Regions from separate parts of the Homo sapiens genome. Here region 1 is linked to region 2. Evidence: fine-mapped expression QTL. A gene starts in region 2. The other region holds a variant in brackets. All regions are shown on one strand. Distances are from middle to middle.

The links.
Region 1: its variant is fine-mapped to the expression of GUCA1B in whole blood (TOPMed, PIP above 0.99).

What each region holds. Positions count from the first base shown.
Region 1 is chr6:42,212,091-42,217,468 of GRCh38, reverse strand. MRPS10 (mitochondrial ribosomal protein S10) reads left to right here. Exons shown (of 7, transcript NM_018141.4): 2 at 3,125-3,189; 3 at 3,277-3,349. Among named protein-coding and RNA genes, the nearest start is that of MRPS10, 3.1 kb to the left of the region's middle. RefSeq lists enhancers at 292-893, 894-1,496. The variant A/G (reference allele first, on the strand shown) is at 2,295.
Region 2 is chr6:42,192,429-42,197,806 of GRCh38, reverse strand. It overlaps GUCA1B (guanylate cyclase activator 1B), which reads left to right and starts at 2,851. Exons shown (of 4, transcript NM_002098.6): 1 at 2,851-3,193. The coding sequence starts at 2,987. RefSeq lists a cis regulatory region at 1-360.

The DNA of each region.
Region 1 (5,378 bases), 20 kb before region 2:
AAATTAGAGGCTGAGCTGGTGCAAGATATCAGACTCTTCCCATGGAACTAAATTGAGATGCTTTCCTGGCATCCAAATTTAGATGAAGGTCTCAAGCCAGAGAAGTGGGTTAGATATCCTCTGCGCAGTTATTTGCAGGAGGAGCAAAAACTTTTCAGCAGCGGTTCTCCTGCTTTTTGGCCTTGGGACCACTTTACACTTTCGGAGTTCAGGACTCCAGAGAGCTTTTGTTTTTGTGGGTTTTTGCTATCTATATTTAGCTTTTTGGAAAATAAAACTTAAGAATATATATTGATTTAAAAGTAACACTAACTCATTACATGTTACAACTAATACTTTATGAAAAATATATTTTCTGAACAAACTGAGTAAGGAGCAGCAATGTTTTACATTTTTGCAGCTCTCTTTAATTTCTGGCTTAATAAAAGCTAGATTCAAATCTGCTTCTGTATTTAATCTTTTCCTATATCACACCTCAGGCTGTCACGGGAAAACTTCACTGTACACTGGTAAGAGAATGAGTGGAAAAGTTGTAAATGACGTTTTGGTTTTATGAAAATAGTTTTGATTTCCCGGATCCCCTGAAAGTGTCTCAGACCCCACAGACGTCCTCAGACTACACTTTGAGACCACCGTTTTTGTTTTTGTTTTTGTTTGGAGACGGAGTTTCGCTCTTGTCGCCCAAGCTGGAGCGCAATGGCACGATCTCGGCTCACTACAGCCTCCACCTCCCGGGTTCAAGTGATTCTCCTACCTCAGCCTCCCGAGCAGCTGGAATTACAGTCATGCGTCACCATGCCCAGCTAGTATTTGTATGTTTAGCAGAGACGGGGTTTCACCATGTCGGTCAGGCTGGTCTCGAACTCCTGACCTCAAGTGATCCGGCAGCCTCGGCCTCCCAAAGTGCTGGGATTACAGCCTTGAGCCACCGCACCCGGCCTGAAAACCACTGTTCTTGAGAAAAGTCAGATGGTATTAGAGATTGAAATTTTTGAACTGCTTTATTAAGACAAATTTACCCAGACAGCCCTCCCTTCCAAACCACCACTCCCCCAACACACACACACACACACACACACACACTCTCTCTCTCTCTCTCTCTCTCTCTCAAGAAATACAAAGAAAAAATGCAATTTAAAAACTTCTTGGCCGGGCACGGTGGCTCACGCCTGTAATCCCTACACTTTGGGAGGCCGAGGTGGGCGGATCACGAGATCAGGAGATCAAGACCATCCTGGCTAACATGGCAAAACTCCGTCTCTACTAAAAATACAAAAATTAGCTGAGTGTGGCGGTGGGCCCCTGTAATCCCACCTACTCAGGAGGCTAAGGCAGGAGACTTGCTTGAACCCAGGAGGCGGAGGTTTCAGTGAGCTGAGAATGCTCCACTGTACTCCAGCCTGGGCGACAGAGCAAGACTCTCTCAAAAAAAAAAAAAAAAAGAAAAGAAAAAAAAAAGAAAAGAAAAAGCAGAGGTTTATAGTGGGAGAATGTGACTGAGAAGTGTAATATTCTTGCTCCTCTTGCACAACTCGATTGTGGGGTCACTGGTGTAATTGTTGGGAGGGAATTTTCTATGCAATTTTGTCTGAAGAATGGCACATACCTCTTACCACTTTGTGTTGTACCTGATTTCCTTTTTCCTTTTCCCCTTTGGTGCAAAGAAGATTATAGAGTTATGATTTGTCTCTATCTTGGGTAAGGAGAGGAAGGACAATAAGCTAAGAATAGGCTTTTAAAACGTGGCTAGGTGGTGGTTCACTCCTGAAATCCCAGCACTTTGGGACACTGAGGCTGGAGGATCGCTTGAGCCCACGAGTTCAAGACCAGCCTGGGAAATATGGTGAAACCCCATCTCTACAAAAGTACAAAATATTAGCTGGGCCTGGTGGCCCGTGCCTGTAGTCCCAGCTATCTGGGAGACTGGGGTGGGAGGACCACCTGAACCTGGGAGGTCCAGGCCATGATCATGCAACTGCACTCCAGCCTGGATAACAGAGTGAGACCTTGTCTCAAAAAAACCCTGAAAAAACAAACAAAAACGTACTTAGGTGACAATCATTTGTATTAATGAAACTTCACTTATGCTAAACTTCTTTTTTTTTTTTTGAGAGGGAGTCTCGCTCTGTCACCCAGCCTGGACCTCCGCCTCCCGGGTTCAAGCGATTCTCCTGCCTCAGCCTCCCAAGTAACTAGGATCACAACCGCACCGCCACCATGCCTGGCTAATTTTTGTATTTTTAGTAGAGACAGGGTTTCACCATGTTGGCCAGGCTGCTCTGGAACTCCTGACT[A/G]CAAGTGATCCACCCACCTTGGCCTCCCAAAGTGCTGGGATTACAGGTGTGAGCCACGGCACCTGGCCTTATTTTCATCTTCATTGTGTTTTTAAGGATTCTATTGTGTTTCCACTTTCTCAGGTTACACTTCAAAATCTCAGAAAAGTTGAAAGGAAAAAACAGCTGTTATATGTAGTAGTATCGTTTGTTTCCTAAAACTGGAAAGTCTTGTTCCACCAGGGGGAGCTGATGGTAAAGGATTTGGAAATGTGGGTTCGTTGTAGCATGTGGCACAGTAGTTAATGATGGGTATAAGTCACAGCACATATTTCAGTTCATTATAAGCTAGTTATCCCAGCCAAGCTAAGAAATATGTATGCTTTAAAAGATGTATGAAAGCATCAAAAGAGGGATACTTCAGAATTTTTATTCCAACTCTTAACAAATTATAAAAACAATATATTTTATTGCTTAAAGATATTCAGGCAAAATAAGTATTATACTGAAGTACAATTAATTTGTAAAAAATAATGGGAAAATGAAGTCACATTTTTTCTTGATGTCCACATAATTCATAGCTTTTTTTAAATGTGAGAATTGTTTTTTTTGAAAAAGTTTTTATTCCTAATCTTTAAAATAGAGATTCTCTAGTATTTTGAGACTGCTTTTTTTTTTATCATCAGCTCTACCATTGTCCTCTTTTTTTTTTCAATCTAATTTGGCCATTTTAGTTACCCCAGTATCTTCGTCTGAAATAATGAGGTAACCTTTTAGTTTTTAGTGGAAATTATGAATGGTTTGGTAGTTGACTTTAATTCTAACACATGTCCTACTTTTTTTTTCTTTAGGGATTGGGGAATTTTTCTGTAAACACTTCTAAGGGCAATACAGCCAAAAATGGTGGCTTGCTTCTGTAAGTATACAATTGGATGTGCTAAATTGAACAAAATAGGTTCTTGTGCTATTTTACTTAGGTTTCTCTTTTTTTCCCCACACATAGCAGTACCAATATGAAGTGGGTACAGTTTTCAAACCTACACGTTGATGTTCCAAAGGATTTGACCAAACCTGTGGTATGTACTCCCTGTTTCTTGGTATAAGGAGCTACCTTGGCAATAGGTTTTCCTTATTATTTCATTGGGTTTTTTTTCCCCAAACACTCTATGAATAAAAAAATTTTGTCCTAGAATACTGGCAAATGCACAACGCATATATTCTCTTAACTCCCTGGATTATATTGTCTTCAGGGTATCAAAGTAAGTTCTAAAGGAATAAATTATTTACCCCCAAATAACTGTGTTAATTAGTAGTCTCTTGCTTTTAGCTTGGCATAATGGAAGAGTTGTCAGAATTTGTGATGTAGAATACTTGATTTATGTTATGGAAAAGTATTTTTCTTGTAGCCTTCAAGTCTTTGTTTTCATTTTGTGTATTGAGCCTGGGCCTGGACAGTGCTTTATTGTTCACAGTGAGAAAATGCGTTAGCACAAATAATAAACATCTAGAAGGAACTTGGTAACCCTGTAGAAGCTATGATTTCATCAATCCAGTTTTTTGTGTTACTTGTAATTTTTAAAAATCCTTTCATTTCCACCCCTCAAAAATAACCCCCTTTAACAGTTTGGGATTACAGTTCTAGACATTTGTCTGTAGGTACTCACTTTGTCTGTGCACATGTCTAGTTTACTGCTCTTTTCTAACTTTTCTCTTAATAGATATTGGATATTTATTTATTTATTTATTTTGAGACAGAGTCTCGCTCTGTCACCCAGGCTGGAGTGCAGTGGCATGATCTCGGCTCACCTCACCTCAGCCTCCTGGGTTCAAGTAGTTCTCATGCCTTAGCCTCCCGACTAGCTGGGATTACAGGCACACACCACCATGCCTGGCTAATTTTTGTATTCTTAGTAGAAATGGGGTTTTCCCATGTTGGCCAGGCTGGTCTCAAATTCCTGGCCTCAAGTGATCTGCCTGCCTCAGCCTCCCAAAGTGCTGGGATTACAGGCATGAGCCACCACACCTGGCCAGTACTGGATGTATTTCTATGATAGTACATTTAAGCCCCAGTCTGCAACTCACATGCCTGCAGGAGCCAGGCCTATAAGAAAAGGTGGCAGAATTGGCATGGTGTGCCACTGTCTTTATAAGCAAGACAGCAGCTACTTATTCTAGCCACTTGTTGCCCTGTGGGAAATCAGACCTAGTGATGCCAGCCTGTCTAAATCTTCCAAGCTAAACTGAAATCCAGATTTTCTTGTGAAATCTTCTGATTTTTAATATTCCTAACAAATTCAAAGTATCTTTTAACACCCTGTAGGGATCAGTCAGAACACATCTTGAGGCTATATTCCCCCTTCTCATCCCTCAACTTAGGACACAGGCTATCAGTATATTCTGTTCTTCCAACAACCCTTTTTGGAGTAATTGAGAGTGGATATCTAGCTTTCTGGCTAGTAAGTAAATCTTTCAGGAGTGAAGTGATTTAACTCTGAATCATTGGATTAGTAGTATAATTTACTGGTTTAACGGATGAATGAAATGAAGGTAATTCACCTTTTGGAAGAAAGTCAAAAATGTCAAACCCATTATTTCTAAGGTCTTTAGGTATTAGGGTGGAAGAGGTTGAAGTTATAGGTATAGTCAGTGTCATATCATTTAAATTAGAAATGAGTAATTTGTTTATTAGGGCAGACAAAACATACGCGAATAAAACCTAATAAAAAATATGAATAGAACTAACTTGGCTTTGTATAATAATGTTTTATAATTAATAAGCACTTTAATCTGTGTTTTCTTATTTTTTTCTTAGAGAAATACTATGAGCAATAGCATAGGTTTACCCTCTTTCATATGTGAGGAAACTAATGTGCAGTGAGACGATATGATTTGTCCGTTGTCATTCAGCTACCATTAGCAGAGCTTAATCCTCAATCCAAGTCTTCTGCCCAGGCTCTTTACTAGCAGACCCTGGAGTCCTTTTTCATTGTGAATTTGAAGCTGAATCGTTATTTTAAGTTGGAAAGTTCCTTTAGTAATTTTGTGGGTTGCCTTGAAAATTCTTTTCATTTACACTGTATTTTAACAGATTCTGAGGCTCATAGT
Region 2 (5,378 bases):
AAGTCGCAATGAGATTAGTGAATTATTGGAGTGAAGGTATTACAGTAACAGATGGAAGGGGTGGGGTGCTGATAACAGACGGCAGCGTTTGAATGTTTCAGAGGTAGTAGAGATTGGTGACAGCAAGGCCTAGGGTGGTGATCCTCAAACTTCAGTACGCATTGGAAGCACCTGGAGGGCTTGTTAAAACACAGACTCCTGGCCCCAGCCCACAGTTCCTGATTCAGCAGGTCTGAGGTGGGGCCTGAGACATTGCATTTCTAGCAAGCTCCCAGATGCTGCACTTGTGGCTCAGGGACCACAAGTGAATGGAAGTACTAGGTAAGGTGGAAGAAAAGCTCTTTGGAACTAAAGAGATCAAGGACCAGGCCAGGCCCGGTGGCTTACGCATGTGGGACCATGCCAGGTTGCCAGCAATTAGAGACTAAGAGGGCAGTGTGACCCCCACACATCTCACTGGGGCCGGGCGCAGTGGCTCATGCCTGTAATCCCAGCACTTTGGGAGGCCAAGGCGAGCAGATCATCTGAGGTCAGGAGTTCGAAACCAGCCTGGTCAACATGGTGAAACCCCATCTCTACTAAAAATAGAAAAATTGGCCGGGCATGGTGGCAGGCACCTGTAATTCCAGTTACTAGGGAGGCTGAGGCAGGAGAATCGCTTGAACCCGGGTGGCGGAGTTCACAGTGAGCCGAGATCGCACCACTGCATTCCAGCCTGGGTGAAAAGAGCAAAAACTCTGTTTCAAAAAAAAAAAAAAAAAAGAGAGAGAGATCAAGTACCTTTGAGGCCAGTGTATGGGATGGGCTGTTTATCCACTTGGAGGTCACAGTCACTGAAATGACTGACATGATGCTTTGAGACAAGCAGGGAAGTCACCAGTGAATGACAGTAATGAGGAGAAGTAAATAGTGGCAAGGAGTCAGATGTGGCTTCAAAGGGACTGGCCTTTTTTGGGGAGAAAAAAGTAAAAGGCCATTTGGAGGCAAGAGTTAGAAGCGAGGAGGACACTAGCCCTGTTATCTAGACCTTGAGGTGTGTGTGGGGGAGAAAAACCCACCACCACTTGAAAGGATGACAGAAGAAATCACATTTCTCCTTCAGGAATAGCAAGAAAGTTAAAAGAGCTTTCAGAGCTCAGTGACGTCTGGAGGCAGAGAACAGTGAGAGAGGAGGTCAGGCCTGGAGATGTGCAAAACAATTCAGGCTGAACACCCAGTGAGGGATGGGTAGGTTAAGGATAGATTCACTGGAACTGCTGCCTCTGAAGTCTTCTAGAAAAATGAGTGTCACTGGGCGTGGTGGCTCATGCCTATAATCCCAGCACTTTGGGAGACCAAGGCGGGTGGATCACTTGAGGTCAGGAGTTTGAAACCAGCCTGGCCAACATGATGAAACCCCATCTCTACTAAAAATACAAAAATTAGCTGGCTGCTGGGTGCATCAAACCAACATGGCACATGTATACCTATGTAACAAACCTGTATGTTGTGCACATGTACCCTAGAACTTAAAGTATAATAAAAAAAAAAAAAAGAAGAAAAAATAGCTGGGTGTTGTGGTGTGCACCTGTAATCCCAGCTGCTCGGGAGGCTGAGGCATGAGAATCACTTGAACCCGGAGGCGGAAGTTGCAGTGAGCCGAGATCACACCACTGCACTCCAGCCTGGGCGACAGAGCGAGACCCTGTCTCAAAAAATAGAAATTTAAAAAAAAAAAGCAAAGAAAAAGAAAAATGTGTGTCCCTGGTCTTTTGATTTCTTGGAGGTGTCATTTTTATGTTACATTAAAATAAGCATGAATATGTAATTGTTCAAAAGCAAATTTTACATGACCTATAATGTAAAAGTAAGAGCCTTCAAAGATATTTTAGGCCATGCTCCCAGATCCTTCTCACATGTTAGTATTTTGGAGGAAATGTGAAAAAGGCACTACCCCTAGGTCTTGTGTGAAGGGTTGGAGGGAGGCATTTGTAGTTTAAATCAGAAAGTGAAAAGCTCCCAAGATGAAAGGTGTAATCTGGAAAGGAGCTTCAGGGACCGAGTTAGCCTGGGAAGAGAGTTGCTCACCTAGAGCCCTTCCCATCATAGATTCTGCCTCTTTTCACTAGACCGTCTGAGGGGCGAGTCCCAGATCACCAGCAGATTCTGTTTTATGGCCTAGGACTTGATCTCACTTCCTCTCTGGATTTGAGTCTCCTGTCTCCAAGATGGGCCTCCCTGAAGCAATGTGAGGCCCAGCTAAAGAGATAGGGAGTGAGTGAGATGGGAGGATCCCAGCCTAGCACCCCGACTCTTTCTTCACTCTGCATCTCTCTGCTTACCTCTCAGTTTCTTCCCCTTCTACCTCTTCAGAGTCTACCAGGGCCAGCTTGGTTGCTTTGTTGACAAGGCTAAGGGAAGGAGTGAGGCTGGAGGAGTTTAGGCTGGAGGTCAGAACTTCCTGGGGAATCTCTTTTTTTTTTTTTTTTTTTTTTTTTGAGACAGAGTCTCACTCTGTCCCCCAGGCTGGAGTGCAGTGGTGTGATCGCAGCTCACTGCAACCTCTATCTCCCAGGTTCAAGTGATTCTCCTGCCTCAGCCTCCTGAATAGCTGGGATTACAGGTACCCACCACCATGCCCAGCTAATTTTTTGTATTTTTAGTAGAGACAGGATTTCACCATGTTGGCCAGGCTGGTCTCGAACTCCTGACCTTGTGATCCACCCACCTCGGCCTCCCAAAGTGCTGGGATTACAGGCATGAGCCACCGCACCCGGCCACCTGGGGAATCTTCTAATAGTCTTAGGGCAGCTTAGCTGGCCTGGACCCACCTCCCTTGCCACCTGCCCCCTGCACCGACTGATCATGTTCAGTCACCCAGGAGATGATGGAGAGGCTGATCAGGCCTCCTGGAAAGGGAGGAAGAGGGCCCTAGTTGGAGAGATCCATCAGCAGAAGCCAGGGAGGAGATACAGACCCTTGCTCCCTGATGCTCCTCAGGGCTAGCATGGGGCAGGAGTTTAGCTGGGAGGAGGCGGAGGCAGCTGGCGAGATAGATGTGGCGGAGCTCCAGGAGTGGTACAAGAAGTTTGTGATGGAGTGCCCCAGCGGCACACTCTTTATGCATGAGTTTAAGCGCTTCTTCAAGGTCACAGACGATGAGGAGGCCTCCCAGTATGTAGAGGGCATGTTCCGAGCCTTCGACAAGAATGGGGTAAGGCACCCTGAAGGGAAGGACCAGTGGCCAGTCCACCTGGCGCCTTCCTCCACAAGTGTCCTCAGGGAGAGCTCCCAGTTCCCCACTCCTCGGCTCTTTCTCTGCTCTTCTTTCCACTCCGTCTCTCTTTACCTTTTCTGTCTCACTCACCAAACCCTTCTGTCTCTTCTCTTCCTTTTGTCCCTTTCCATCTTCTCTGTCTCTCCTTCCCTCCCTCCATCTCTTAGCTGTCGGCTGATGCTCCCTGTGTCCTCTTCTTGAGAGCTGAAGGGCGACTGGCAGACAGTCCAGGTCCTCTCTTTGTGTATTTTTGACCAAGACTCTGCAGCCCAATGACCGGGTTTTCGCATCTGCCAGAGCCCCTGTCACTCTAAACACTAGGAGCAAAAGAGATGTTCTAAATGAGACAAGGTATCTTAGCATGGGCTATGAGCTCCCTCTTGTTGGGGTTCTTCTGAGACTGGTCAGATCCTCCCTGTCAAGAATGCTGGAAGAGGCTCCTGCATGTATTGGGAGACTGGGCGAATGACTGCAAAAGCCCCTTTCAGCTCTTCAAGTCCTGGAAGGTTTCATTAAATCATTCAGACTAGAGTTTCTCTAAGCCCACAATGTCACTAGCAGCTAAGAAGATAACACATCTTGTAAATGCACCAGGGGATTGAATTTTAAATTTCAATTCAGTTAAAAACCCCTTGATTATTTAAGGTTATCCAGTTCAGTGCCCTGGCAATCCTCAAATACCTCAAATACCTCAAATGCCCTGGTATTTGCCTCAAATACCAATTTAATCTGAAGAAAGTGTCAGTTCTCCATTCCTCAGTGCGTGGAGAACTTAGCTTTCTAAGCTGAATCACTGGGAATGCCACTTCAGGTCTCATCCTGTCGCTGGTACCAGTCAGTGCACGTCCCCACAGTGCCTGTCCCGGGACAGGAGGGTGAGGTCAGCACCTTCAATTCAACAGAACCTCCTTAGAGATGAACCCCATCGACCACCCCACAGGGCACAGAGCCAGTTTCGGACTTCTCAGCGCTCCGCCTCTCTTAGGTCTCCTCTGAATCAGCAGCAACCCTGGGTGGGAGGGGCAGACTTTTGTTATTCCAAATTAAATGATGAGAAAGCTGGGCAAAAGGGAATGAATCGATTTGCCCAAGGTCTTAAGTGCTCCTGCCTAGAAGGCAGGTTTTTTAAAGAGAGAAGATGACTTTTTAAAATAATTGATGTTTTTTTAAAATGTAAGAAAAGTAAACAAATATATCAGGTCATAAATAATAAGACTCATTTAAGTCCATCAATCTTCCCCAGATTCATCTAAAAATCAATACGATCATGATTCAAGATCCAAAGGGCTGATTAAGCCCCTAGGCATATAGTTGTACTCCTTATACCTCATCTCTTCTTATAAATCGGCATATGATGTTCATCAATGTTTTTTCCTTTTTGAATAACTTTTTAATTTTACTATGATTCTAAATTTACAGAAGAGTTATAAGAATGATACAAGTAACTCCCATATGCAATTTATCCAAATTTCCCCAGTTATTCACATTTTATATCATTTACTTTATCATTCTGCCTCTCTCTGTATACATACATATATATAATGTATCCTATAAGTATATATACATATACATGATACATAATTTATACATATACTTTTTTTAAGAGAAAGCTATAGATATCATGCCCGTTTATCCCTAAGTATTTCAGTGTGTATTTTCTTTTTTGTTTTTGAGACAGAGTCTCGCTCTGTCACCCAGTGGCATGATTTCAGCTCTTTGCGGCCTCTGATTTCCCAGGCTCAAGGGATCCTCCCACCTCAACCTCTCAAGTAGCTGGGATTACAGGTGTGCACCACCATGCCTGCTAATTTTTGTATTATTTATTTATTTATGTTGGTAGAGATGAGGTCTCGCCATGTTGCCCAGGCTAGAGTGCAGTGGCACAATCTCAGCTCACTGCAATCTCCACCTCCTGAGTTCAAGCAATTCTCATGACTCATCCTCCTGAGTAGCTAGGATTACAGGTGCACACTCCCATGCCTGGCTAATTTTTGTATTTTTAGTAGAAACGGGGTTTCACCATGTTGACCAGACTGGTGTCGAACTCCTGACCTGAAGTGATTTGCCCACCCCGGCCTCCCAGAGTGCTGGAATTACAGGCATGAGCCACTGCACCCGGCCA